Regions from separate parts of the Homo sapiens genome. Here all the other regions are linked to region 2. Evidence: fine-mapped expression QTL. A gene starts in region 2. Each other region holds a variant in brackets. All regions are shown on one strand. Distances are from middle to middle.

Region 1 (10,506 bases), 53 kb after region 2:
TTCAACAATTGTGGAAGTCAGTGTGGCGATTCCTCAGGGATCTAGAACTAGAAATACCATTTGACCCAGCCATCCCATTACTGGGTATATACCCAAAGTACTATAAATCATGCTGCTATAAAGACACATGCACACGTATGTTCATTGCGGCATTATTCACAATAGCAAAGACTTGGAACCAACCCAAATGTCCAACAATGATAGACTGGATGAAGAAAATGTGGCACATATACACCATGGAATACTATGCAGCCATAAAAAATGATGAGTTCATGTCCTTTGTAGGGACATGGATGAAATTGGAAATCATCATTCTTAGTAAACTATCACAAGAACAAAAAACCAAACACCGCATATTCTCACTCATAGATGGGAATCAAACAATGAGATCACATGGACACAGGAGGGGGAACATCACACTGTGGGGACTGTTGTGGGGTGGGGGGGGAGGGATAGCATTAGGAGATATACCTAATGCTAGATGACGAGTTAGTGGGTGCAGCGCACCAGCATGGCACATGTATACATATGTAACTAACCTGCACATTGTGCACATGTACCCTAAAACTTAAAGTATAATAATAAAAAAAAAACCATTCTGATTAATTTGAGATGGTATCTCATTGTGGTTTTGATTTGCATTTCTCTAATAATCTGTGATGTTGAGCCTTCTTTCACATGCCTATTGGCTTTGTGTATGTCTTCTTTGGAAAAGTGTCTGTTCATGTCCACTTTTTAATGGGGTTGTTTGTTTATTTCTTATAAATTTAAGTTACTTATATATTCTGGATATTAGACCTTTGTCAAATGCATTTTTTTCAAATATTTTCCCCATTCTGTAGGTTGTCTGTTTAATCTGTTAATAGTTTCTTTTCCTGTGTGAAGTTCTTTGGTTTAATTAGGTTTCATTTGTCAATTTTGTTTTTATTGTAATTGCTTTTGGCATCTTCATCACGAAATCTTTGCCAGGGCCTGTGTCTGGAATGGTATTTCCTAGGTTATCTTCCAGGATTTTTACAGTTTTGGGTTTTACATTTAAGTCTTTAATCTATCTTGAGCTGATTTTTGTATATTGTGTAAGGAAAGACCCAGTTTCAATCTTCCACGTATGACTAGCCAGTTATCCCAGCATCATTTATTGAATAGAGAGACCTTTCCCCATTGCTTGCTGTTGTTAACTTTATCAATGACCAGATGAATGTAGGCATGTGGCTTTATTTCTAGGCTTTCTATTTTGTTCCATTGCTCTATGTGTCTCTTTTTCTACCAGTTCAATGCTGTTTCAGTTACTGTAGCCTTGTAGTATAGTTTGAAGTCAAGCAATGTGATGCCTTCAGTTTTGTTCTTTTTGCTTAGGATTTCCTTGGCTATTTGGACTCTTCTTTGGTTCTATATGAATTTTAAAATAGTTTTTCTAATTCTTTGAAGAATGTCATTGGTAATTTGATAGGAATAGCATTGAATCTATAAATTGCTTTGGGCAGTATCCTATTTTAACAATATTGATTATTCCTATTCATGAACTTGGACTATTTTTCCATTCATTTGTGTCATCTCTGATTTCTTTGAGCAGTGTTTTGTAATTCTTATTGTAGAGATCTTTCACCTCCCTGGTCAGCTGTATTCCTAGGTATTTGTGTGTGTGTGTGTGTGTGTGTGTGTGTGTGTGTGTGTGTGGCTATTGTGAATGTGATTTCATTCATGATTTGGCTTTCAGTTTGGATGTTGCTTGTGTATAGGAATGCTATTGGTTTTTGTACAATAATTTAATATCCCAAAACTTTGCTGAAGTTGTTTATCAGATCAAGGAGCTTTTGTGCAGAGACTATGGGGCTTTCTACATATAGAATCATGTAATCTGCAAACAGAAATAGTTTGACTTTATCTTTTCCTATTTGGATTCATTTTATTTCTTTCTGTTGCCTGATTGCTTGGGCTAGGTCTTCCAGTACTATCTTCAGTAGGAGTGGTGAGAGAGGACATCCTTGTTTTGTTGCAGTTTTTAAGGGGAATGCTTCTAGCTTTTGCCCATTCAGTATAATGTTTGCTGTGAGTCTTTTTAGATGGCTGTTATTATTTTGAAGTATGTTCCTTCAATGCCTAGTTTGTTGAGGGTTCTGACTATGAAAGATGTTGAATTTCTTTGAAAGCCTTTTCTTCATCTATGGAGATAATCATGTGATTTTTATTTTTAGTTCCATTTATGTGGTGAAACACATTTGTTGATTTGAGCATGTTGAACCAATCTTGCATTGCAGGGATAAAGCCTACTTGATCATTTTGGATTTACGTTTTTATGTGCTGCTGGATTCAGTTGGCTAGTATTTGTTGACAATTTTTGCATCTATATTTGACAAGGATATTGAACTGAAGTTTTATTTTTTGGTTGTGTCTCCGTAAGGTTTGGGTGTCAGGAGGATTCTGGCGTCATAGAATGAGTAAGGGGGAGTCTCCTCTTCAATTATTGGGAATAGTTTTAGTAGGAATGGTACTATTTCTTTATATCTCTGGTAGAATTTCACTGTGAATTCATCATATCCTAGACATGTTCTGGTTGGTAGGATTTTTATTACTGATTCAATTTCCAAACTTGTTATTGGTCTGTTCAGGAATTCCATATCCTCCTGGTTCAATCTTGGGAGGTTGCGTGTTTCCAGGAATGTATCCATTTCTTCTAGGGTTTCTAGTTTGTATGCATAAAGCTGTTTAAAATAGACTCTAAGGAATTTTTTGTATTTCTGTGAGGTTGGTGGTAATATATCCTTTGTCATTTCTGATTGAGTTTATTTGGATCTTCTCTCTTTTATATCTTTGTCTAGCTAGTAGTCTATCAATCTTATTTTTTCTTTAAAAAACAAACTCCTGGATTTGTTGATCTTTTGTGTGGTTTTTTACATCTCAATTTCCTTTGGTTCATCTCTGATTTTGGTTGTTTATTGCCTTCTACTAGATTTGGGGTTGGCTGGCCCTTGTTTTTTTAGTTCCTCTAGGTGTGATGTTAGGTTGTTAATTTGACATCTTTTTTTGTTTTTTTTTTTAACTTTCATTTTAAGTTCAGAGGTACATGTGCAGGTTTACTATATAGGTAAATTTGTGTAATGAGGGTTCGTTGTACAGATTATTTTGTCACCCAAGTATTAAGCCTAGTACCCATTCATTGTTTTCCTGATCCTCTCCCTCTTCCAATCTTCCCCAATTTGATAGGTCTTAGTATGTGTTGTTCCCCTCTATGTGCCCATGTGTTCTTATCATTTGGCTCCCACTTATAAATGAGAACATGCAAAATTTGATTTCCTGTTCCTGCGTTAGTTTGCTAAAGATAATGGCCTCCAGCCCCATCCATGTCCCTGCAAGGGACATGATCTTGTTCTTTTCATGGCTACATAGTATTCCATGGTGTATCACATTTTCTTTATTTGGTCTATCATTGATGGGCATTTATGTTGATGCCATGTCTTTCCTATTATACATAGTGCTACAATAAACATACACATTCATGTGTCTTTTATTAGAATAATATGTATTCCTTTGAGTATATACCCAGTAATGGGATTGTTGGGTCAAATGGTGTTTCTGTCTTTAGATCTTTGAGAAATAGCCACACTGCTTTCCACAATGCATGAACTAATTTGCACTCCAACCAACAGTATATAAGCATTTCTTTTTCTCTACAACCTCACCAGCATCTGTAATTTTTTTGCTTTTTAATAATAGCCATTCTGATGGTGTAAGATGGTATCTCATTGTAGTTTTCATTTGCATGTCTCTAATGATCAGTGATATTAAGCTTTTTTTCATATGCCTCCTGGCCACAATTATGTCTTTTTTGAAAAGTGTCTGTTCATAACCTTTTCCTATTATTAATGGTTTTTAAAAATTTTTTTTCATATGCTTGTTGGCCACATGTATTTTTTTTAATTGTACTTTAAGTTTTGGGATATATATGCAGAACGTGCAGGTTTGTTACATAGGTATACGCGTGCCATGGTGGTTTGCTGCACCTATCAACCCATCATCTACATTAGGTATTTCTCCTAATGCTATCTCTTCAATGGCCCCCAATCCCCTGACAGGCCCTGGTATGTGATGTTCCCCTCCCTGTGTCCATGTGTTCTCATTGTTCAACTCCCACTTATGAGTGAGAACAAACAATGTTTGGTTTTCTGTTCCTGCATTAGTTTACTGAGAATGATGGTTTCCAGCTTCATCCATGTCCCTGCAAAGAACATGAACTCACCCCTTTTTATGGCTGCATAGTATTCCATGGTGTATATGTGCCATATTTTCTTTATCCAGTCTATCATTGATGAGCATTTGGGTTGGTTCCAAGTATTTGCTATTGTGAATAGTGCTGCAATAAACATACATGTGCATGTATCTTTATAGTAGTATGATTTATAATCCTTTGGGTGTATACCCAGTAATGGGATTGCGGGGTCAAATGGTATTTCTGGTTCTAGATCTTTGAGGAATCATCACACTGTCTTCCCCAATGGTTGAACTAATTTACACTCCCACCAACAGTGTAAAAGCATTCCTATTTCTCCACATCCTCTCCAGCATCTGTCATTTCCTGACTTTTTAATGATTGCCATTCTAACTGGTGTGAGATGGTATCTCATTGTAATTTTGATTTGCATTTTTTTAAAGTGCCTGTTTACATCCTTTGTGCACTTTTGGGGTTTTTATTTTTTTTCTTGAAATTTATTTAAGTTTCTTACAGATGCTGGATACTAGACTTTGTCTAGTATTCTCCCATTCTGTAGGCTGTCTGTTCACGCTATTAATCATTTTCTTTGCTATGCAAAAG[C/T]GCTTTAGTTTAATTAGGTCCCATTTGTCCATTTTTGCTTTTGTTGCAGTTGCTTTTGACATCTTCATCATAAAATCTTTGTACGTTCCTGTGTCCTAAATAGTATTACCTAGGTTGTCTTCCAGGGTTTTTACAGTTTTGATTATTACATTTAAGCCTTTAATTCATCATGAGTTGATTTTTCTATATGGTGTAAGGAAGGGGTCCAATGTCAATCTTCTGCATATGGCTAGCCTATTATCCTAGTGCCATTTATCAAATAGGACATTGTTCCCAATTGCATGTTTTTGTCTGATTTGTCAAAGATTGAATAGTTGTAGGTGTGCAGCCTTTTTTTTTGGTTCTTTATTCTGTTCCATTGTTCTATGTGTCTGCTTTTGTAGCAGTACTATGCTGTTTTGATTACCGTAACCCTGTAATATAGTTTGAAGTTAGGTAGCATGATGCCTCCTGCTTTGTTTGTTTGTTTGTTTGTTTTCCTTAGTATTGCCTTGGTTATTCATGCTCTTTTTTGGTCCCATGTAAATTTTAAAATAGTTCTCTCTACTACCCTGAAGAATCTCAATGGTAGTATAATAGGAATAGCATTGAATCTATAACTTGCTTTGGGCAATATCACCATTTTTAGGATATTGATTCTTCCTATCCATGAACATGGAATGTTTTTCCATTTGTTTGTGTCATCTGTGATTCCTTTGAGCTTTGTGCTTTGTAGCTCTCCTTGTAGAGGTCTTTCACCTCCATGGTTAGCTATATTCCTAGATATTTTATTCTTTTTGTGGCAATTGTGAATGGGATTACATTCCTGATTTTGCTCTCAGCTTGACTGTTGTTTGTTTATGGGAATGTTAGCAAATTTTGCCCATTGATTTTGTATCCTGAGACTTTGCGGAAGTTGTGTATCAGCTTAAGAAGCTTTTGTGCTGAGACTATGGAGTTTTCTAGTTAAAGGCTTATGTTGTCTGCAAACAGGGATAGTTTGACTTCCTCTCTTCCTATTTGGATGCCTTTTATTTCTTTCTCTTGCCTGATTGCTCTGTCCAGGATTTCCAATACTGTGTTGAATAAGAGTGGTGAGAGAAGGCATCCTTGTCTTGTGCTGGTTTTCAAGGGGCATGTTTCCAGCTTGTGCCATTTAGTAATATGTGGGTTATGGGTTTGTCAGAGATGGCTCTTTAATTTCGAGGTATTTTCCTTCAATATCTAGTTTATTGAGCATATTTAATATGAATGAGTGTTTAATTGTATTGAAAGCCTTTTCTGTGTCTATTGAGATAATTATGTGGTTTTTGTCTTTAGTTCTGTTTATGTGATGGATCATATTTATTGATTTGCATATGTACCAATCTTGCATCCTAGGGATAAAGCCTACTTGATCATGGTGGATTAGCTTTTTTTATGTGCTACTTTATTCTGTTTGTGACTATTTTCTTGAGGATTTTTGCATCAATGTTCTTCAAGGATATTGGCCTGAAATTGTTGTTGCTGTATTTCTGCCAGATTTTGGTATCAGGATGATGCTGGCCTCATTGAATGAGTTAGGGAGGAGTCTTTTCTCCTCAAATATTTGGAATAGTTTCAGCAGAAATGGCAGCATATGTGCCATGTCACGATGAGAAGAATGTATATCCTGTTGTTTTGGCTGGAGAGTTCTGTAGATATCTATCAGGTCCACTTGAATCAGTGCTGAGTTTGGGTCCTGAATATCTTTGTTAATTTTCTGCCTCAGTGATCTGTCTAATATTGTCAGTGTGTGTATCTAAGTCTCTTTGAAGGTCTCCAAGAACTTGCTTTATGAGTCTGGGTGCTCCTGTGTTGTGTGACTATTTAGGATAGTTAGCTCTTTTTGTTGACTTGAATCCTTTACTATTATATAATGCCCTTCCATGAATTCGACATATTTCTAACGTTTTGATGTGTGCTTTTAGTGCTGTAAATGTCTCTCTTAACAGTGTTTTATCTGTGTCCCAGAAATTCTGATATGTTGTATTTTGTTCTCATTAATTTCAAAGAATTTCTTGATTTCTGCCTTAATTTTACTGTTTATCCAAAAGTCATTCTTGAGTAGGTTGTTTAACTTGTATGTAATTGTATGATTTTATTACTATTGTTTTATATTTTTATTGTGCTGTGTTCTGAGAGTGTGTTTGGTATGATTTGATTTTTTTTTAATTTACTGAGATTGTTTCAGGTACAATTGGATTGTCAGTTTTAGAGTATGTATCACATGCATATGAGAAGAATGTATATTCTTTTGTTTTAGGGTAGAAAGTTCTGTAGATGTTTGTCAGGCCTGTTTGATCAACTGTCAAGTTCAGGTTCTGAATATCTTTGTTAGTTTTGTGCCTCAATGACCTGTCTAATACTGCCAGTGGGGTCTTGAAGTCTTCCACTTTTATTGCGTGGTTATCTAAGTCTCTTTGTAGGTTTCTAAGAACTCGTTTTATGAATCTGAGTGCCTCTTGTTAGGTGCATATATATTTAGAATAGTTAGGTCTTCTTATTGAATACATCCTTTACTATCATGTAATGCCCTTCTTTGTCTTTTTTGATCACTGTCGTTTAAAGTCTGTTTTGTCTGAAATTGAACTATCAATCCTTGCTTTTTTCAGTTTTCTGTTTGTTTGGTAGATTTTTCTCCATCTCTTTACTTAGAACCTATGGGTGTCATTGCATGTGAGATGGGTATCTTGTAGACAGCATACAGCTGGGTCTTTCTTCTTTATCTAACTTACCCCTCTTTGCCTTTTGAGTGAGACATTTAGCCTATTTAGTTTCAAGGTTAATATTGATATGTGCAGGTTTGATTGTATCAGTGTGTCATTAGCTAGTTATTATGTATAGTTTGAGCTCTTAACATTTAGATCTTTGATCCTTTTTGAATTGAATTTTCCATATTGTATGAAGTTTGGGTCCAACTTCATTCTTTTTCATGTTGATATATAGTCATCTCAGCACTGTTTATTGAAAGATCTTTTTTCCATTAAATTTTTCTTGACACCTTTGTAAAAAAAATCAACTGATCATAAGCATAAGGGTTTATTTTCTGACCCTCAAATCAATTTTATTGACCTTTATGTCTAATATTCCAGCACTACACATTCTTGATTACTGTAGTTTCTTAGTAAGTTTAGAAATCAGATAATGCAAGTCCTCCAAATTTTTTTCTGTTTTATCAGATTGTTTTGGCTTGTCTGGTTCCCTTGGATTAACTATACATTTGAGAATCAGCTTGTCAATTTCTTTTAAAAAGTAAGTTGGAATTTTGATAAGGATGGCATTAAATTTATAGATCAATTTGATGATTAGTGTCATTTTTACATTAAGATTTCCAATACATGAATACAAAATGCCATTCCATTTATTTGATCTCCTATAATTTCCTTCAATGACATTCTGCAGTTTTTGTGTACAAGTCATTCACTACAAGTGAAAGAATGCAAGACTACAAGTCTTTCACTTAAACATATACCTAAATATTTTAATCTTTTTGATGTTGTTTTACATGGAACTGTTTCTATAGTTTTGTTTTGGAATTATTCCTTATTTTATAAACATATAATTAATTTTATGTTCATGTTATATCCTATAAATTTACTGAATCCATTCATTAGTCTTTAATAGAATTTTTATGGATTACTTATTTTTGAAGATCATGTCATCTTGAAATAGATATAGTTATATTCATTTCTTTTCTACTTTGATACCTTTTTTTTCCCTTACCTAATTGCCCTGGTCAAAACCTCTAGTATATTGTTGACAAGAAATGGTGAGAGTGGGCATCTTTGTCTTGTTCACCATCTCAGGGATGAAATGCTCAGTATTTTCCAGTAAGTATGATTTTAGCTGTGTGTTTTCCTAGATGTCCTTTACAAGATTGAGGAAATCCCATTTGATTCCTAGATTTTGAGGATTTCTATAGTGAAATGATGTTGAATTTCTTTGAGAAATGTTGTTTCTGTGTCTATTGTTGTGATGATGTGGGTTTTTTTATTGTATTGATTTGTTGTATTATATTGGTTTTTCATCTGTTGAACTAAATTTGCAATCTAGAGTAACTCCACTAGGTCATAATATACAGTCATTTTTTAATACTGCTGGATTTGGTGTCTTTTTATTATCCTTAGGACTTTTTTTATTTCTATTCATAGATATACTGGCTTGTAGATTTTTCTTGTAATGTCTTTGTATTTGGTGTCAGGATAATTCTGCCTTCATAGAATGAGTTGTAAAGTGTTCCTTCTGTTTTTTGCTAGAGTTTGTGAATGATTGAAACATTTGGTAGAATTTATCTATGAAGACTTTTCTTGGTGAAGTTATTTTAAAAAATAATTTACTAATTTGATCTCTTTGTTACAAGTCTATGAAGAATTTCTATTTCTTCTTCAGTCTGTTTGGTAGCTTGTTTATTCCTAAAAATTTGTCTACTCATCTAGTTCATCTAATTTGTTGGCATACAGTTGTACACTTTTAATGTTTTTTAATTCTGTAACATCAGTAGTAGTGTTCCCTGTTTAAGTCTTAATTTTCATAATTTGCATCTTCTCTTTTTTTTCCCCTTGGTCTGTTTAGCTAAAGTTTCATCAGTTATATGGATTGCTTAAAATAATTGGTTTTGTTGATTCTTCCTATTGTTTCTCTGTTCTCTATTTTACTTATATCCACTGTAATATATATTATTTCTTCTGCTTGCTTTGATTTAATATTTTTACATTTATAATTTCTTAAGATAGAAGTTTATGATATTAATTTAAGATATATATCAAACAGGCATTCACAAATATAAATTTCCTTGTAAGCACTGCTTTTACATCCCATGAATTTTGGTATGCTATATTTTCACTTGTATTTATCTCATAAAATTAACTAATTTCTCTTATGATTTCTTCTTTGATTTATTGATTATTTTAGAGAATATCATTTAATTTCTAACTATTTGTGACTTTCCCAGATTTCTTCTTGTTATTGATTTATAATTTTATGCCTTTGTGGTTGGTTAGCCTTTGTTTGGAAAGATATTTTGGGTGGGTATAAAATTCTAGATTGACTTTTTTTTCAATATTTTAGAGTTGCTGTTCCACTGCTTTTTTCACTAGTGTTTTTCCAATGAGAAGTTAGTTGTCGTTGCTTATCTTTGTTTCTCTTTACGTGGCATGTCATTTTTTGTTTTCCAAGGGAAGGAGCAATTGTTGGCTGATTTAAGATTTGTTTCTTTGTCTATGATTTTAAGAAATTTGATTATCACATGACTTGCTGTAGTTTTCTTTATGTTTCTCGTGCTTGGGATTTATTAAACTTCTTGTATTTGTTAGTTAACAATTATTATCAAATTTGGAAAACATCTTTTTCATTATTTTTCAAATATTTTTAACCTTCTCTCTCTCAAGAGGCACTAATTAAATATATATTAGGGTGACTGACTGTGTTCCACAGCTTAATAATGCTCTTTTAATTTTTTCTCTTCATGTGTTCCATTTGGATACTTTCTATTGCTATGTCTTTAGGCTCAGTAATCTTTTTGGCAATATCTAATCTGCCATTGAGCATATCCAATGATCCAATATATTTTACTTCTCACATACTGTAGTTATCATTAATAAACTTTTAAGAACTGTCATAATGTAGCTTTTCTTGCTAATTTTAATATCTTTGTGAGTTCTAGGTGAGTTTAGATTCATTAAATTTTCTCCTCATAA
Region 2 (10,506 bases):
TGGGGCCAATTCATAAAAATAAAGGAAGGTATCAGAGGTAAAGAATAGATAGCTTGCAAAGAGGCATTGGCAGAAGAATGTGGTTTATAATAAAGACATGATATCATCAATCAGTATGAAAATGAAGAATTAATTCATTATTTTCCAGTTGTAATAAACCGTACTGGTTTCCTATTTTGTAAAAGAGAAACAGTTAGATCATCACTAAATAATGCATGCTTAAGTTAGTTCCAAATATGTTGGAATTATATCTAATAATAATAATGAGGCAAAACTTACACATTGCGTATTTTGTTTTAATCACTTTTGTAAATGCTTTACCTACAAAAATGCTTTGGTCCTCATAACAAGCCTATGAGGTAGGAACAATTACTTCACTCTTTTACAGATGAGAAAACCAAGTCATGTGGAAGTTCAGTGATATTATCCAAGGTCACACAGCTTTTAAGTGTTCTTATAGCCATCTCAGACTTAATATGTCCGCACGTGAATTCCTAATCTTCTCCCTAAAACCAGTCCTAACTCCTATCTTCTCCATCTTACAATATCCTTTACTCAGAATCATCTGCGTGCTCAAGCCAAAAATCTCATAGCTATGCTTAACTCTTCTTATAGCCTGCATACAAACATTTTGGAAAATTCGGTTCAATCTATCTTCAGACTAGATCTTCAATCCACCTCTACTTTGCACAAATTGGTCAACACCGTATTTCCTGGTTTGTTTCAGTAGGTTCTTAACTGTTCTCCCTGCTTCCACCTTTGCTTCCCCAAGTCTATCCTCACTATAGCGGCAAGAAAAATACTTTACAACATAAATCAGCTCAGCCTACTCCTCAACCTGGAACACTGTTCACCAGGGAATCCCTACAGCCAGTTCTCTAACCTACAGATTGTTACTTAAATGTCTCCAGATTAAAGAAGACTCCCCTGACAACTGGTTAAAATTGCAACCCACCACCAATATCTGTCACCATCAGCATTTTTAGTCCCCATATCCTGTTCTTTTTTTTTTTTTTTTTTTTTTTTTTGGGACAAAGTCTCGCTATGTCGCCCAGGCTGGAGTACAGCGGCGCAATCTCGGCTCAGTGCAAGCTTCACCTCCCGGGTTCATGCCATTCTCCTGCCTCAGCCTCCAGAGTAGCTGGGATTACAGGCGCCCGCCACCACGCCCGGCTAATTTTTCTGTATTTTTAGTAGAGACAGGGTTTCACGGTGTTAGCCAGGATGTTCTCGATTCCTGACCTCGTGATCCACCCACCTAGGCCTCCCAAAGTGCTGGATTACAGGCTTGAGCCACCGTGCCCAGCCCCCATACCCTGTTCTTTTAATTGCCTTCTAATATAGTATGTAATTAACTTATTTAATATATTTATTATTTTTGTCTGTCCTCTTCAAAATATCAGTTCAGCAACGGCAGTATCTTATCTGTTTTGCTCACAGATGTATGGGAAGCACCTAGTACAATGCTTTGCACTCCATAAAATATTTAAACATAGACTCTGTAAATATTCGTTGAATGAATGTTGAGACTGGGATTTTAAATTTAGATAACATGATTCCAGGGTCTATGAAGTTAATGACTAAGCAATTGCCTTAAACATGAAATCATTTTTTAAAAGCTTGAAAAAATAAGTGAATATGAGAGGAAAAAGATATTAGGAGCATTAAAGCACTAAAATAAATTATCAGGGAAAATTTGATAGTTTAATGTTTGTAAGAATGAAACATCTTTAAAATAAATAACATTACCTCCAAATTTAACAAAGAATTAAAAACTGAGAAATATCTTCCATAAATATGGGAATGTACTAATGTTCAAATATTAAGAGTTATTATAAACCAAATGGGGGAATAGCAACAAAACCCCGTAAGTATTGAAAAAGTATGTAAACTCACAAAAAGAAACAAGTAGCAAAGTACACAAAATATAAAAGTCACCGTTTCTAGTTAACACAACTCATTGAGATACCATTTTCTTTCAAGTAGGAAATCAGTCAAAATAAAAAAAGAAAAGAAGAAAAAGGACCTTAAGGATGCCCCGTATTGATGAGGGTTCAATGCAACAAGCTCCCTTATAACATACAGCATGTACTTTAAAATATTTCTGCATCATGACACAGGGCTGTATTACTAGGAATCTATTCTGAGGACATAATTAGAGATACAGACAAAAATGCTTGTGTAACGGCTTTCAACAAAAGTATACCAGTAGGGAATAATAGTATAAAAACAATTACACTTTCAAGACCTGAAAAATACTTAAGTATTTCATAGAAATAAGTAGTGATTCATTAAAATTAACATTTTTGAATAACATTTTGATAACTTAGAAAATGTTAATTTTTTTAAAAAATAGGCAGGTAAAAGCTGTGTGTATAGCATGGCCATGTAGGTTAGATTGAAGCCTCATTACATTGATGACAGAACAGAGGATTCTAAAACCTGGAGCAGGAGCCAAATCCAAAAGTTAAGCTGAGGTGGAGCCCCTTCAGTGAGTTTGGGTGAGCCCTTGTGCAGTAGGAGGTAAAGGCCTGGTCACAAAGGTGGAAGACAGGTCACATGGGCATCAAAGACAATGATAACCTATTTCTTAATTTATCTTAGCATCAGAAAGGCCAATATCATATACTTCATGATGGCATCATACACAGATGCATTACTGGCACATAAAAATGCTGATGGTGACACATGTGCATGAATAAATTCTCCAAATACTTGTCTCTGTGACTTTGTCTCTATGTCTGAGGTATAACAGCTTTGAAACAGTGTTTCATACATGTTACATGTCAGCTCCTAAACAGAACAATAACCTTTAGGAGTAAAGTGAAAATTGTATTCCTAAAACAATTGTGATCCCAATTCTACAATATACTTTAGCTATAAATAGACATTACAGAGAATTGTTTTACTGCTATCATTTCTTGGGTCACTTGTCTCTTGCTAATTTGGAAACATGAGTGCTTTCTTGTTCTGTTTAATAAGGTACTAAAATAAATTCTAGATAGCATATAACATTTTATTGTAAATTTCTTTGACTTCAATGAATTGCATTTTATGTGGAGTGCAGGTTCGTAGAATGCTGCCAAACTCATATGTTTAAATTGTTAAAAATAAACTCTTTGGATTGCTAATGACTGTAGTATATGCAATTCACCAGATTGTTTAAACAGATTTCAAATAATTTTCCTGTAATTGCTAATCATTTTGTAGGAGACCTGAGACCAGCAATCAATAATCACATGAAACTGTTGAAAAGGAGGCTCAGTGATCAATACAAATTCTTCTTTCCGTGGGAATACAGCCTGCTCAGATGGTTGACATATATAGTGCTCTCCTTGGTGTTCTCTTCTGTTATGTATTTATTGCAGTTTCATAGGCACCTTTTTATGGAAAGAAATAACAAATTAGAAAAAATTGGTATAATATCTCTTTGCTGACATCATGACAGAGATAACATTTGCTACAAAGAACAAATCCTTAGAGGGCAGGAGCATCTAACTTGGTACAGATGCTAAGGTTGCAAAGTAAAGTTCATCACTTCTAAACAATGGACAAGTTTGTCACTGATCAGCTTTTCTCTTGCATGTATTTTAATATGCATTATAAAGACCTATACTCATTTCAGTATGTGGAATTCTATCTACCACGGGTTGATCTCAAAGATATAAACTCAAACACAGTATGTAGAATTTTGTTTTTCAGGCTAAGAAGAAACATTGTCAATAAATGTCACAAAAATACTTACAGTTCCATTAAATAAAATAGATTTCCATATATATGTTTACAGTCTCCCCTCCCTTGTTAGAAAGTGGACTTGAATTTATTATAAAGTTATTACCTTGTCTACTGATAGATACATTTTGCATATTTTTAAAAGCCTTCATTTAATGTTAAGAAAAGTAAAGAACTGTTTAAACATGTCAATATATTCTTCTTGTAGTAAAGAGTAAAAAGAGATTCAAGGAAGGAGAAAAGCCTTTTGTCGTTCTCTCCTTTGTTTACTGCAGTAGCATTGTAGAAACCAGGTTTATCTCAATGTATCTTAGTATTTTGGGAAGGACTTAGTATCTCAGAAATTTAGAATAGGGGTCTAGCTGAGCTGGGAACAAACCCATAGAGGAGCAGTTAGGCAGGGAGAAAGATAAATTAACAAATAAGAAAAGTGACTTAAAAAAAAAAAGCAGCATGCACAGTTACCCCAGCGTGATCTCTGGTAATATCCTCTTTACTCATGTGAAAACTATTTACAAAAACCTCAACTCATGTGAACTCTGAAGTGGGTAGGAAAGATAAAAAAGGAAATTCTTTAATTTTGTGCTTTAGAGTCTGAATATGGATGCCAGTTTGTCAGTTTATATTCCTTGGGAATATTCCATGGGAAGAAACTGGTCCGCCTTGCAGTCGGCACAGCACAGCTTCCCAGGTGTAACAACTTGGTTGGGATAGGAGAAAACGGTTGCTCCTAAGCTTTTGCGCAGACTGGAAGCTGAATCAGGCGTCTGCTGGGATACAATCAGAGACCAGCAGCTAACCTCAGGGCTTTCAGAAAATAACGGCAATCAGGTAGAAACAGAGTCTCGAGGAGGGTAATTGCCAGCTAGGATTCCTCAAGGGCTCCACTCTCTATCTTACACGTGAACTCTATCTTTCTCTGGGTCATGGGGTCACAACCAATTAAGACTTTCCGAGTGACAAGCTGGGAATCACCGTGTTGCAGTTACAGCAAGTGTTATTGCCAACTTTGCCAATAGTGTGTGTGTGGTTTGTGTGTGTGTGTATTCCTCTCTGTACTTTAATCTTATTTTCATATGTGAACACTAAAGAGATTGGACAAGAGATAACGTTTATCTTGAAATCTCACTCTCAGTAAGATGGTACCAGTATCGCACACACACACACTCGCACACACGCACATCACCTGCAGCCGCAGAACCTTGCACCCTTGGGCTGGCTCGCGTCTTAGGGTTTTGGTATATTTGGTGGAAACTTGCTGATTTCCTATGCCTTTTGGAAAGACCAAGCTGGATGAGGGTGGTTGGAACGCTGTGGCTCATCATTTATTCATTGCGACTGTTTTGATTGTTGACACTAGTGGCAAGCCGCATCCTCCAGCTCTTGCAAGGGAAGTCTGACACCTTGAGGACAGGAGAGGGGGTGCCAGTCGCCCAGAGAAGCGGGAGTGGGAGAAGCTTTGAGAGTTGCAGGGGACTACTTTTTTCCGGTCGGGCGGCGGGCCTCATGGGTGCTTGTTTACCGGGCTGGGAGCAGGGCATTCAAAAGCTGGGTGTCGGAGCGCACTGAAGTCCAACACGCCTGCAGAGACCGCCCTAAGCCTGGAGGTGTGTCTGGCTTGCATCCAGAACCACAGGGTGGATTCTCGCCACCGACTTGGCTGGATGACGGCTGGCTGGTGGTGAGCTCCCCTGCCCACTGGCTGACCTCAAGCAGTTGGCCCCGGTAGGTGGAGGCTATTCGAGGGGGACAAGCTGGGGACGCAGCGTCAGCTCCTGCCAGCGCGCGGGTCTCCTCCACCTCCAAGCAGTGTGGTGCGTGGGACGCGCATCTTCCCGGACTATCCCTTTCCAGCGCGGTCTGTGCGGACCCCGAGCCCGGCAGCCACCAGGGACGGAGGGCGGGGTGCCTTTCTCTGGGCTCATCCGCTGTCAGCCGTGGGAACTCTTAACTTTATCCAGAGGGATCTGTGCAGGCGGGGGTGGGAGAGGTTCTCCTCCCCTGGCGGTTACCTCCCCCTCCCGGGCCGCCCCTCCCCCGCCTCCCATGGCTTCGCTTTCAGAGCATCCTCACTCCGCCCAGTTCGGTGCCAGCTGCGTGGGCTCCAGCTTCGATCGTTTTCCTTGGAATGCTCCAAAACTCAGCAGCGACTAAGGGAATTCCATTGGAATTTGCCGGGCGTGCTCTCACCCCGCACGGCACCCGCGCCGTCAGTCCTCGGATCCCATCACTTCAGCCCGAAGATTGCAACTTTGCAGGTAAAGAGGATGTCGCCTCGGGGCTCCGTTCGACCGGAGCTACACCTCGCCTTCTTTCTGGGATCTCGGTTAAGTTTCCTAAGCTGCCTGGGAAGCCGGCTCTCTTCTGGGAGGCGGACATCCCTGCGGGGTTAGGAGTTCAAAAGGTTCTGGCTATGTGGTTTCTCTTCAAGGCTCAGGAAAAAAACCTGTGAAGCTTTCGGTGCTTGACTCGGGCTGAGCAGGAGTTTGGGGGTGCTCCTCAGTCTTCCGCCGCACTCGGCTTTAAAGCAGGGGAGAGGGCGAGGAGTGAACCCCCGGTGTGACTTATATGGTAAACAAAGGAGCTGCAGCCACGCCGTGGTGCTGGGGAATGTGGCCGTTTTTAGCCTTTTATGCATTTGGGGAAAATGGAGATCTCGGGGGCATCTGGGTGCATATAAGTGAGGCCTTAGCTCTCCGGCACTTAAAGTAGGGTAACGAAGGAAGGAGAGTGATCAATGTTCTACCGATCGATTACATTCTGCGTCGTTTTCATTCTCTGTCAAGAAACAGAAACACTTTTATCCGTGTTGCCCGACCCAGGCTAGTGATTCCTAGTTCGCCTGGCAACCGAGATTCCAATGAAGCCAATGAAGCCAATGACCCGGTTTGCTACTTGGTTAAATCACTGGGATTCACTGCACAACTTGTTGTTCCAGCTGTGAAGTCAGCTGTCTTTTGCGACTAGAGACAAGAGAATACTGGAAAGGCATCGAGGGTTTAGGAGAGCTGAGGAAAGGGATCTCTTATCTTGTCTGCCTGCATTCACTATGGTGTATCCACTATGGTGTATCCCTGTTCACATGGCTTCTTAGAGAGGCCCTTCCCAGTGAAATTCCATAGCTATAAAATGCAGCAAGTTGCTTAAGGAGTAAGCACCAAGCCAAAGGAGTAGGAAGAGACAGAAGGAAGCTTTAGTTGTTTTATTAAAAAAAAAAATAGACAGACTTGTAAAACTTTTTCAGTTTTAATAAAACACCGCCTCTCAGAGCTCATATAATTTCTGCCTTTCCTTTCACAGTACATAATCACAGCACAAAGAATATTACAAATTCTTTAAGCAAAAGGTTTACTGGAGGGTTTTTTGGTTTGGGGTGTTTTTGGTAAAACTCTAAATTAGACATTGAGAGTAAGAGTGGGTGGAGATGTTAAAATGTTGAAATCTTCATCATTGTGTTGGGTTTGCTATTTAAAGTTACATTTGTAGCGCCTACTTTCTTATTCACCTGGACACTATTGTCCAGAAAACATCCTCCTTAAATGTTTAAGGGGGGAAAAAAAACAATAAGATCAATTTCAATTTACTTGCTCACTGGTCATTCTGAAAGATATATGAGTTGGAATAGATTTTCATTACTTATAACCTTTAAAATTTTGTAATGGTTATATTATTTATTTTTCTGTTGCACTTATTTCCAAAAGGTCAAGATAAAACTGCATTAAAAAGTCTATGACAGAGTTAAAGTTCTCTTTGAATTTTATAGCTATTTTAATTATTAGACCAGTAAGAGACCAAATAACTTTTCATATAAAATAACCTTAATCGATTCATACTGTGTATTAATAGGAAATAACAGAAGCAATCTTTATATTCTTTCTCATTAGAGGAAATTTTAATGTCTTATTCTATACACACATTTCAAACTAACTTTCTAACTTATGCTCCATGGAGAACTACAGCCATCTATAGGACTGAAAAGTTACCTGTTTCAACATCCTCATTTAGGAATCCAAAGCTAAATAAATATTAAAAAACAACAACTTATGTTTATAAACTATTACATCATTTTAATTGGTAAGGAATCTGGAAGTTAGATTGGCTATTTTTCAATATTTGGATGGCTGTGTCTATCAATATTTTTGTGAACTAGATGTTGTTATAAACTTCACTGTAATAACTAAGCTTAGAAAAATTGCTGTTTCTGAACTGTAGATGAAAGATAGAAACAATGACAATCATTATTTTTAATTTTTCTTTTATGATTTCAAAGTTATAAACATCTGATCATCTAGTCAAATGCTATCAGCATACCCTGTGATAAAGACAATTACATTTGTATTGAAATATAATAACCCCCTTTAAGATGCACTGATTTTAACCCCACTGAATTAAAACTACTTTTAAGTGTATATTTTTGGAAATAGTCTGTTTTATTTTTATACCTGCATGTTTAATTGCCAGGATTATTTATAGCAATTCAGATGATCAGCATTATATTTAGCAGCTGAAAACTGAAATAATTTCTCTTTTCTGATCGATGCATATATTGGAACAAAAATAAAAATATGCACACATTTGTTCAATAGTAAGTATTGTAACTATCAGTGCTTAAAGTTAGTATAGATATATAAGTAAAGATAGATATATGAGAAATACTAAGCAGTAGCTAGAACTATAAAATTAGGGACTGAATATTTTATGAAAATATGATTGTTGTATTTTTGAAAATAATGTCAGGTAAAGGGAAAATACAATAAACTATTAAATTTTCCTTTTTCCAAAACCATCATTGCCATATAGCTTATGAAATCAAATTCTAATGTGCACTTTGACTTTAGAAATTGAATTGCCTAGACTCAATTGGAACCAGTGTTATTGACCTCTTTAATGCCTATGGAAACCCCACCATGATTATTTGGTTCTCATTAAAAATGAGGTTGAGGAGACAGCTCAAAATAAAAACTTTGCCTTTTCACCTAATTTATACCCTATACCCGCCCCCCCCCACAAAAAATAAACATTAAAACTGGTTCGACTCAACCCAAATTTAATTGGGAATTTGTTTCTATCTAGTTATAATGAAGAGTTGATTTAGAACTATCTCACTACTCATGTTTTCTATTTCTCACCCTTCCAGAGGCATTGACCCCGCAATATTTTAAGAGATTTGAGAATATTTTGATCAGGGATATAATATCATGGCTGTGTCTTTTTAATCAGCACAAATATAGACCTAATTTTTGAGAACATTAGTATTACCAAAATAACTTTATGATGCAAAAAATGCATTTAGGGAAAGACACCATTTGTTTGGGAAACTGAAAATTAAAGGCATGCGCATTGAAAATGTATTAATTCAAAACCTTGTGGTTTCATGAACTATTTAGCAAATTAAGTGCTGTATTTAAATGTTTAAAAAATATAAGTGACCCTCCTGAAAGTTGTTTAATTTTAATAGAATAAGAAAGAAATAGTTTCAGAACTTGATCTACTATTGTAACTAAACTGTATGTAATATCCTATTAATATTAGTGTATGTTTTATCTCTCTTTTTAAAAATATAGCAGTGTCATAGAATAATGACTTCTTGAGAGACACTAAGTGACACATGGACACAGTGTTACATATAAAATTAGAAATGTTAATTAAAACATTAATTTAAAAATATGCCTTGATAGCTTTATCTAGCACACTGCATTCTTTTTGAGAAATGACAGTGAAATTAAATGAATCAGATATTCATTAATTATATTCTGTCTGTGGTTTGCTGTTAGATTTTGAAATATGTTGAAAAATTACTTCAAGCAAATACTATCAAGAGTTCAAATTTACCTGAAACAGGACCTATTGTGAAAAAAGAAAAGAGGGAAAATGGGCCAATATTTATGAGAATTTAATGTACACTTGGCACTATGTGAGAAACTTTGAAAAAGAAAGCTATTTTTCATTGTTATCTTAACATCTACCTTGAAACTGAAGTATTATCACATTTTAACAACCTGAGAAAGATGAAATTTATGAAAATCACAAAATTGCTTTGTGGGAAGGCAGGATTTGAAGTATATCAAATTTTACTATCAGGTACTACGTCTACCTGATGGTAAAGACTACACTCTTTTTACTTAATTCCTGTGGTTTCTAAAATACAATCAATAATCTTTTAACAAGTTTCATAAATTCATTTTTTCAGCTATTTGTTTCTTGAATTTTAAAAATATTATAACATTGGAATATAAACAACTGTCCCCATCATGGGGATAGAATTTGAAACAATAGTCTGTTAAAGTTCCATCAGTTTTGAAGCAGAGCAAGAGATAAGCTACTTATCTTGAGCAGGATGATCTCAAAATGACTTCCTTTCTTATTCTTAAATATAAATCTAATACATGTAAAAAGAAAAAAAAAGTTTGTTTTTATGAACAAAGTTCAAGATTATAATTTTTTAGAAATACTCATGAGCTTATAATTTATAAATAAAAAGTTATCATGCTAACCTTTTGACCATCTGTAAGCTGGTAATAAAATGTCTTTATTAAAAAAAAGGTCATGCTAGGCCATGTTAGGTTTATACTACATCTTATCAATGTTATGTAAAATTTCTAGACAAGTGTATTTGTTTTAGTTTTCCCTGAAATTTTAATTTTCCAATTATTTTAATGTCCCTTGGTATTTGAGAGGAGCTCTCATTCATGCATCCCAAAAGACATCGATTAGCTGAATTTGTCATGATATTTACTAAACATATATATGCATTTGCGCTGACAGGATTGTGTC
Region 3 (10,506 bases), 150 kb after region 2:
TGAACAAGGTCCTTCTCCTTTCTTTTCTAACTATTCATAGGCTGACTTTTGGGAAGCTTTGTGTATAGTCTGTGAGGTTATGAAGAAGCAGCTATTTGTTTGGAATGTGTCTCCTAATAGTTCTTTTCTTCAAATTCTTCCAAGTACTCATAATAAATATTTTGCCAGGCAGTGGCAAACATTTTTACACCAGCCTATGAGTCTGTTGTGTAAATCACTGACACACCATGTGTTTAGAGATTAGACTGCACCAATTGTTAAGTTGCATAAATATCCTGAGCTGTGTCTCTGTATATTATTAAATAAGTGTATCCCTAAAGAATTGAAAATGAAGTATATTCAGAATGTACCCAAGTGAAACTCCTGTTAACAAAATAGGAAATAGGTGTTCAAATGAAAAATGAAAAATAAATATACTCCTGAGTAAAACTTGTATAACAGTACAAGTGCAAAAGATTAGTTTTGCCAATATTTAGGTGTATCTGTCATTATCTGAGGTATTGAGAAATAAATATTTATTTGTAAAACACTTAAATACTGATTATTTTAGTATAAAATAAAATGACTATTTAAATCCATCCTCACTAGATAATTCAGAACACCAGAAACACAGAAAAGTTCAGAACGCAGAAAAAATGATTCTAGGAAAAAGCAAAATAATACTACTACTACTAATAATAACCTCATTGCTCGGTTTCTCATGTCCAAAACAACGGACAGACTTAGGCGTCCCATTACTAGGAATGGCAAGTATCTGGCATTCTCTTTCGTTCTAGGATCTGCCCTAGATAGCTATACCTTTTCACCTTATATTTTAGTGGTTGCTTTCAGAATTTCAATGTATACATTAATTAGTTTTCTCTTGCTGCTGTAACAGATTTTTGCATAGTGGCTCAAAGCAACACAACTTTATTATTTTATAGGGCAATATGTCAAAAATACGATGCAAGTCTCACTGAGCTAAAATTGAGATCTTGGCGTGGTTGCATTCCTTCTGGAAGCTCAGAGGATAATCATTTTCCTTGATCTTCCCATCTTTTCCTCTTCCTCCATCTTTAAAGCCAGCAATAGTAGCAGGTTGAGTCCTTCTCAGCAGCATCACCTTAGCCTCCTGCTGCCTCCTTCTTCCATCTTTTAAGAACACTTCTGACTACACCGAGCCCACTTAGATAATCCAGAATAATTTTTCTGTTAGAAATGTTTTAACATTTCTAAAACAGAATAATGTTTTAACATTAAAACATATTTTAATGTTAGCTGATTAGCAACCTTAATTCCATCTGCAACCTTCATTCCTGCTTGCCATGTAACATAGCATATCCACATGGACATCTTTGGAGGGAGGGCATTATTCTGTCTGCCACAATACCCTCAATTTTTCACAATCTACTTGGAGTTTATATTGTATACCTCATGCAATATGTAGAAGCTTTGCCACAGAAAAGGCCCATTTACCCCACATTGCTGTTCTTTATGCTGTAGTTGACATATACATTCCATACATTATAAACATCACAAGACAGTGTCTTAATTTTTGCTTTACACATTGGTATGCTTATTTTTCAAATAATAGAAAAAATGATCTTTTATATACCTATTTGCCTTTTCTAATGTTCTTCATTCCTTACTGATTTGAGTTTTTTTTCCAGTATCATTTCCTTTAAACCAGAAGAATCCTCTTTAGCATGTCTTGTAGTACATGTCTGTTGGCAACAAATATTTTTAGTGTTCTTTTATCTCATAATGTCTTTGTTTTACCTTCATTTTTTTCTTTTTATAAGACATGGTCTCACTCTGTCACCCAGGCTGGAGTGCAGTGGCATGATCCCGGCTCACTGCAGCCTCAACCTCCCAGACTCAGGTGATTCTCCCACCTCAGCCTCCAACGTAGCTGAGACTATAGGCATGTACCACTTATCTCCATTCTTGAAGAATGTTTTCATTCAGTATAAAATTCTGGATTGACAGTTTTTTGTCTTTCGTAGTCAGCATTTTAAAGATACTGCCCCATTCCCTTCTGGGCTCTATATTTCTGATGAAATGTCAGCAATAATTTTAATTGGTGTTCTCCTGCATATAATATGCCATTTTTCTCAGACTGCTTTTAAGATTTTTTTTTCTTTTTTGTTGTTTTAGAAGTTTGACTATAATGTGTTGTGGCATAGTTTTCTTCATTGTTATTCTGTTTGAGGTTTTCCTGAGCTTCTTGATTCCGTAAATTTATGTATTTCAACAATTTGGAGGAAACTTTATGCCATTATCTCCTCAAATATTCTTTTCCTGACTCATTCTCTTTCTGTTATTCTTCTGAGACTTCAAATACACCTTTTGATATTATCCCATGGATACTTAAGGTTCTATTAGCTTATTTTAATATTTCCTTCTCTTTTTTCCTTAGATTGGATAATTTCTCTTGATTTGTGTTTGGCTTGTCTTACTCTTTCCTCTGTCATATCTATTCTGCTGTTAAGCTCATTCAGTAATATTTTTATATTTTAGGTATTTTATTTTCAGTTCTGAACTTTCCACTTTGCTGTTTTATAATTTCTATTTCTCTGCTGAGATTTCTTATGTTTTCATTTATTATTACCATATTTTTTCATTTGCCATCTTGAGCTTAGTTATAATAACTAAAGTCTATGTCTGCTAAATCCATTATCTGGGTCATCTCAGGGTCAGTCTTCATTGATTGTCTTTTCTCTTGAGAATGGATCACATTTTCCTGCTTCTTTCTAGAAGGAGAAATTTTGCATTGTATCTTGGATGCTGTAAGTTGTTGTGGAGACTCTAGATTCTGTTATAATCATTTCAAGTTTTGTCTGTTTGTGTGTATGTGCGTGTGTGCGTTTTGTAGTTTAAAGTCAGTATACTTAAAATCTCAGTTCAGTACTTCTCTAAATCCCCTTTACCTAGACTGTCTGCAGTCTGCCCTACGTATGCATGGCTCAGGATTCTGCAGAGAATTTGGGAATCTTTTTTCTGACTCCCTCTTTTATGGAATTCTCTCTTCATTTTCTAGCAGTTGTGGTTGCCCTGAATACTGTCATATATTTTTGTAGGCCATTATTATTCATATTTTCAGAGTTCTTGCCACTCCACAATGTACCACAGTGGTAGCCTGCCCTCAGGCTACTAGCTATATACAAGCAAACAAATAAGTAAATAAGAAACTCATTGGCCTGGTCCTTTCTTCCAAGTTTTTACTGTCTTCCAGAATCTGCCTGTTTTTATTCATTTTTATAATTAAAGGTTAGTTTTTCATTGTGTTTTCTTCAAAGTTATAGCTGTTCTTTTCGGGGGGGTTGGTCTATATGTTAGTTCCCTAGGGCTTCCATAAGAAGGTACCCCTTACTGGGTAGCTTAAGCAACAGAAATTTATTTTCTCACAACTCTAGAGGCTAGAAGACTGAGAGCAACACATAGAGAGGGTTGGATTTTCCTGAGACCTCTCTCCTTGGCTTGAATATAACTCTCTTCTTTCTGCATTTACACCTGGTCTTCCCTCTATATTTCATTTTAACTTAATTACCTCTTTAAAGACTTTATCTCTAAATACTGTCACACTCTAAGGTTCTGGGGTTAGGACTTCAACATACTAATCTTGGGTAGAGGACACAATTGAGACCATAACAGCTCATAAAGAAATGTTTCAGCCACACCACAGCTGACAGAGATTCAGACAGGCTACTCCCTTTCAGTATACATTCTAGACCCACGTTGCTAATAAACTCATGTTGGTGTGTAAAATACAACCTATGTCCATTCCTCTTCCTACTATTAAGTAGCCAATAGCATTTAAAATGTAGACTTAAAATCTGTATGTTTCTAATGTAGAAATAGTCCTCTATTCTAAAACTATTTTCTGATATCGTCATCTATTAGCTGTTCACTCTGTGAAAAGCTTCAGTATAAATCTCTAAATCAATATAATTCACTGAGAATTATATCATTAAATTTTTGAAAATTGTTCTTGAAACTGATTTTCTCCCTTATAACTCCCTGTAAAATGTTGTGAATATGAAGTATTGTCATGGAAATAAGTTACTATCTTCTGGGCAGCCTCACTTCTGATGTTTTTGTTTTCCACCTACTTGTGTTATTACACACTTACTCTAGGTCGCCAGATCAAAGAGTGTGCGTTTGGTTATATAAACATGTATTCAGTCTATGATATTTTACCACCGTCCCCACCAGACTTCTCTCTTAGTCTCCTATATCAAACATGATAAAAAAACACTTTAAGAACTCAGACGTACACAAGAGAAGCAGCTATGAGGAAAATAAACTCACAAAGGACAATTTAAAAATAAAAATGTTTTTTTCCAGCTTCCTAGTTTAAAAATACCATGCTCGTTGAGACTTGTAACGATTAAAAATAGCCCTTGAGTAGAGAGAGTGCGTGGTTTTTTTTAAGATCTGTTTATCTGAAATTTTATGTTAAAAATATTTAAGAATCAACATTCATATTTTAGCAGTAATGTCTTTTATGTCCTCAGAATGACCTCCCCTCCCACCACATACACAAAGTACTAACCACTTCCTCAAGATACTATGTAG[G/C]TTCAGAGTTCAACTTTATTTTGAAAAAGAATAACTCAGCCTAGAAGTTTTCTTATACAAAACTTGACTAGATACTCAAAGCCAGTGCTCTCTTCATGAGCTACCCCGTATTGGCAAATGTATGGTAAAGAAACCTTTGCTAATGAACAGTTGGTATGAAATAGAAGTGCAAATTCAAGTGAGTAGTTTTAAAATTAATGTACTTATAATTTTAGGATTCAAAATTCTCCTCTAACAGAAGGTACCTCATCTTTAATGAATTTATTCGTCTCCTTACTTGTAATTCCCGTATATTTTAGTACTTAGAATTTTTTTGTACCTTGAAGGGTAAGGTGATTGCCAAAGCATTATTCCATCTAAGAAACTATGCAGGAAGTCACACCAACAACACATAACAAATTAAGATATGTTTTAAACAATATTTTCTCTTGGCTTTTGATTTGCAGCAAGGAGAAAAAAAAGTTTTCATGTTTCTCTTAGTCTGTAAAAATACAAACACTCAAAAACAACATATTACATTCTAACAAAGTTTTATCAGGTCTTGAGGCTCTTAAAAAGGACATGCAAAATGCCTATGTGTACGCCTTGGCTCCTAAAATGGAGTGGGGCACTGAGGCACATTCCCACGGTTCCTCTGAGTCACTTCGCTGTATCTGTCATAGGTTGGCAGGGATAATTCCTAGCAAGCAATTCAAACCTCCATATACAGTTACAAGAGGAGAGAGATAGACAATTTTTAATATAGGCCAATTCTGGATAATGACCAAGATCACATTTCAACTGGTAGATTTCGCAAGTGTCTTATCTGACAAAACAGCCTATGATGTTATGATCTAGTGAGTAATAATTCCTTATGAGGTCGGATGCGGTGTCCAGAAAAAGCAACATATGATTAAAGTTTGTGAACCCACTTATCTCACTGTAGTTGCAAGTAGATACAGCAATATTTCAAATTGTTTTAAGCTGTGTAATGTCCTCAATGCAAATATGTGCATTGGGATGGGACGGCAGGAAGAAGGAAAGAACTAATAATATTTTTGCACCTGGTACTGTAATAAGCTCTTCACATCCTTTATCTCATTTGATTCTTCCCCAAAAGGCAACTATTTTTATAATCTGCATTTTAAAGACAGATCTTTCTGGCTCTGGAGTCTGGACACTTCATATAATACATGCTTTTTCTGTAAAATAGAAAATTCTCTTATTCATTTACTACCATTCAACCTATGCAAAGATGCATTACTTTGTTGATTTCCTTGATTTCCTACAGGTCTATATGTTGACATAGAGATATGCATATCTGGCCTGCAAATGGCATTGTGCTCTTGGCTTTGGCAATATCACGTGGCTCATACTATACCTTCCAGCCATATCCAGCCTAAGATACAAGGAATAAGAAAGGTGGACAAGTCTGGAAGGTGGTCCTAGACAAGTGCTTTCAGCTCTCTTTAGACCATGAAACTCCTGCAAATTATTGGGATCACTCTGAACTATTCTAGGAGAGGTGCAATAAGTATCTCATTGCTTTCATCAATTTATTTATGCACACACATATGCATACATGCCTTTATTCTTCATTAAACAAATATTGTTTGTGTACCTATACGTATTAGGAATTGTTAGGCTTTGGTAATGCTGAGGTGAATAAGTAGAGTTCTTGCCCTTGTGTAACTAGCAGTCTAGTGGGAGAGATTATAAAAAATAATGGCTCAAATTAAAGTACTAGTGCAGTCTTTGAAAAGCATTATGAAGAAGGATATATGGAGCAATGTAACAATGCCAGAGGGAATCTGAACTGACTGAATAGGAGGAAAAAAGAAGTAAAGGAGCGGTGAGGGATTACAAATAGTAGACAAAGGGAGCATCATGTGGGGTGATACTTTGATGGCAGAAATCAGTGTGGCTGGAGCACAGAGAGCAAGGCTAGTGGGTGAGCTAACCCTAAAGAGTAGTAGGCAGAGGTGAGATTGGGCGTGTCCTCTTTAAGAATTTTAGTTTTTATCCTAAATGCTAAAAGCAGCTTTTAAAAGATTTTATGCAGCTATGTGTCATGATTAAATGTGTGATTTTGAAAAGATCAGTTTAGATGTTGTGTTTAGAATAGAGTGGGGCAAGTAACTGAAATATGTCAGATAAGAAATAGGCCCAGCACAGTGGCTTACGCCTGTAATCCCAGCGCTTTGGGAGGCCAAGGTGGATGGATCACCTGAGGTCAGGAGTTCGAGACCAGTCTTGTGAACGTGGTGAAACCCTGTCTCTACTGAAAATACAAAAATTAGCCGGGCATGGTGGCACATGACTGTAGTCCCAGCCGCTCAGGAGGCTGAGGCAGGAGAATCGTTTGAACCCAGGAGGCAGAGGTTGCAGTGAGCCAAGATCACACCACTGCACTCCAGCCTGGGCGACAGAGTAAGACAAAAAAAAGAGAGAGAAAAGAAAGGAAAGAGAGAGAGCGAAAGAGAAAAAAAAGAAAAGAAAAGAAAGGGAGAAAGGGAGGGAGGGAAGGAAGGAAGGAGGGAAGGAAGGAAGGAAGCAAGCTTGGGTGCAGTAATAAAAGCAGAGAGAGAAATGGAGGATTCAGGAAAAGTCGTGGAGTAAAGGAAGGGAATGCATAGGGATAAACCTAGGCAATTCCTATATAAAAGTTGAAATAGAAACAAAGAATGCACAGATTCCTCCTAAAAATATAGCCACTTCTTGGTCACTATGTGTATGACCTCTTCTTCCTGGACTCACCTCTCTTATAGCAGAGAACATTGATTTATTAATCCTTAGGATCAGTAAGTGATTCCTCTACTTGACCCTCTAGAATAAAAACTAAACTGCAAAACAAAACATCCATGGGTTTTTTGAGGGAGGTGGGAGTCCACCTTCTCCTTTTCTTTTCCATTATGTATGTTCAGATCACTATACCTGATCCTATGTAAAATTACTCTTCTTCCTCAGTTTTTTAAGACTGAAACGTTCTTTTAGTCCCTTTATAAAACACCAAGTAAGACATGGAAGACAGACAGTGGAAACAGCTATCTTTCTTTGAAGGGACTATGTTGGTTATTCAGATAATGAGAAACTGTCTACAACAATCCCAGGGACTCCATAAGATTAAAAGAAAGAAAAGAAAAGTTGTTAAATAAAGAGCCAGTACTTTATAACTGAAAGTTTAGCTTTTATTTCAGGCAATCTTTAGAGGTTGATTAAACCAGGATTACTTGTTTAATGCCTTTTATTATCTAGATAAAAGAATGTAAAATGGTACGTGGTCATGTAAGTAATACAGTTCCTTTGCAAATTCTGTAACTACTGACTTGGAATTGTAGTTATATAATCTTTAAATCATTTTGGGGTTGACTTAATCCCAAAACTCTTCTCCCTCACCCAGGAAGGCCCAATCAATACCACATCTATAAGGAGCTAACTCTGCTTCTGCTGCTAGTTTTGTGTCCCTGGAAATTCACCTGGCTTCCATGGTCGTCAGATTCCTGGTTGAAAAAACAAAAGGTTGAAAAATGAAATGCTTGATGATTTTTGAAGTGCCTTATACCTCTAACTTTCTAAGAACAACAAATCTTAGTTAGCCTGACATAGAGGGTGCTTGTGTGAGCATGCATGTGTTTTGTCTGTTCAACTTTTTTCAGTCATGTGCATCTTCAATGTTGGAAGTAAACCTCATGCATTTCTTTCTCTTTTGAGGAACAAATACAAATGCACAATAAGCAACTCATTTGCAGTGTTAAGATCTCAGGCACATGAGATATTTGCTAATATGCAGGTTGTATCTTTGGCCCCCCTGACATCTATTTCAGCCTCTCACCCTTCTCTAGACATGCTTTTTCCAGGTCATTAAGTTTTACAAAGCTCCTTTGGCAGAACCTCTCTCAAGCCAATCCATTAGTGAAATGCTCCCACATAAAAACTGACCAATTCTCCCATGCTCTTGAGGATAATATTAGCAAGGGGCAAAGTAATCTGATTTCCTATTCAAAAATATGCTATACAGAAACGTTACTGACTGATAAGCTGAACTACTTCAGTCCTATCTACTTTTCAAGATAGGAACTATTAACACCAGTGATCGCTCACTGATAGCGTGACAATGAAAAAATGCATGGGACTAGGTATCATTGCCTAGGCAGGGCTATCTGCTTCCAAAGTCCATCCTAGGAACAGAAATCGGTGACTGGACATCCCATTTCTAAAGTCTTGGAGATCTCCGTTATTGAATCTTCTTTTAGCACTATAAAAGGGGCTCTATAAGTGGGAGAGAGGAATGCAAATCCCCTGTACTATGTAGCATTGGGTAATAGTGAAAAGCAGTGTGGGGATCATCAGTTGACTGCCCACTTGTCAATCTTTGGAGAGAAAGGCAATCAAGGACATAACCACAATCCCTATCTTCTGGAATAGACCTGTTGAGGGTTCTTTTGAAATTTCTAAAGATATCCATCATCTATGACTTTAACAACACTTGGACTGCCTTTTCCAATATCGTAGCCACTAGCCACATGAGGCATTTAAGCACTCAAAATATAGTTTGTCAAAATGGAAATATGCTGAAAGCGTAAAATGCACACGAGATTTCAAAGGCTTGGTACAAAAAAGAAAGGAAAAGAATGCAAAATATCTCATTAATAAATGTTTATATTGCTTATATCCTACTATGAAATAATTTTAGATATGTTAAATGCCATTATTAAAATTAATTATTAAAATTAATTTTACCTATTTCTACTTTCTTTTCTGAAATATGTCTATTAGAACATTTTAAATTGCAAATATGGCTCACGTTTTATTTTGGGGGACAGCACTGTACCAGACTTATACATTAAATGTCTATAGTTTACTGGTCAAGGCAAACAAGCCAAGTATTAAAATAAAAAATTATGTAAAGAAATATAGAAAGATATTCACTTTAAATCTCTTTACAGATTACTGTATTTTTTTCTTAGATATCTTTGCTATATCTTACAGAGACTTATATCTTGAATGGTAGTGAAAATAATTAAAGTGAACTTCAAATTTATTCACATTTTGGTGATTCATTTATTCTGGGAGCACAGGGAATAAAACTTTAAATGTAACAGAATTCAGGAATCTTTAAACTGGAATCATGGATTTGTTTATTCCATTATTAATTAATAAATTACTTCACATTGAATACAGTTAAGATCTAATTGTCACAATATTTGTATCATACTTAACAATTTTCAAAGTACTATCATTGCTTATACCATAAACCCTTAGAAAATGTTGCAGAGAAGTTCTGTTTGAAATAACCATTTCTATGATCATCTATTTAATATGATGTTAAAATAATTCATGGAATATATTATCTTTAAACTCTGTTCCAAAAAGTTATTTGTGAATTTGTACAATGCAAACAAAAGGAAGCTTCAAAATGGGCAGCAATAATAGACCTCTAGTATAAAAACACAAATATTTTAAGCAAAAGGTATGTAGTACTATTTTATCTAAACACATTCTGCGTGACCTTTTAGATCATTGACTTAAGAATTAATATATTCACAACAGTAGACTTTGTTTTGTGGTTACTTTGTGAAGAAGATTTTTTAATGAAGTTTCATTTTAAAGTACAAAATCAGCCTTTGCCTGGTATAAGAGAGAATAACTAATTACAAATTATACAGCATCATATAGGCCCCAGAAGCTTATTTCTCAATTACCTTCATATAAAAGCAATAGTCTATCTTTCCATTCAAAAAATAATTGCTTTCATTCACTTTTTTCCCTTTCCTAATTGAAAATCTGTAACTGATAAAATCCATGGCCAGATATCTCTAGTCATACAGATTTTATACCTTAGAGACAAGACAGATTCAAGACCCATAAAGAAGATCATCAGCTAACATTTTTTTGAACAGAATAAGGGACAAATAATGTGTTTGGAAGTAGAAAGTATGTATTTAGTAATGTATTTTGCCAGGAAACAGT

Alleles and levels. Positions count from the first base shown, and alleles are read on the strand shown. Sizes are in standard deviations (SD) of each study's normalised expression. Not every link is listed here.
With allele C in place of T in region 1, the expression in testis of the gene that starts at base 5,813 in region 2 is lower (large effect, 1.9 SD a copy in GTEx).

Evidence for each region.
Region 1: its variant is fine-mapped to the expression of TRPC4 in testis (GTEx, PIP 0.93).
Region 3: its variant is fine-mapped to the expression of TRPC4 in ovary (GTEx, PIP above 0.99). The same link has a PIP of 0.9 or more in thyroid.

What each region holds. Positions count from the first base shown.
Region 1 is chr13:37,812,362-37,822,867 of GRCh38, reverse strand. All of the region lies in intron 1 of TRPC4 (transient receptor potential cation channel subfamily C member 4), which reads left to right. Among named protein-coding and RNA genes, the nearest start is that of TRPC4, 52 kb to the left of the region's middle. The variant C/T (reference allele first, on the strand shown) is at 4,811.
Region 2 is chr13:37,865,079-37,875,584 of GRCh38, reverse strand. TRPC4 (transient receptor potential cation channel subfamily C member 4) reads left to right here and starts at 5,813. Exons shown (of 11, transcript NM_016179.4): 1 at 5,813-5,990. It overlaps LOC124903160 (a long non-coding RNA gene), which reads right to left and starts at 6,442. Exons shown (of 2, transcript XR_007063762.1): 1 at 4,919-6,442; 2 at 1,686-3,380.
Region 3 is chr13:37,710,620-37,721,125 of GRCh38, reverse strand. The region is part of intron 3 of TRPC4 (transient receptor potential cation channel subfamily C member 4); the gene reads left to right. Among named protein-coding and RNA genes, the nearest start is that of POSTN, 120 kb to the right of the region's middle. The variant G/C (reference allele first, on the strand shown) is at 4,558.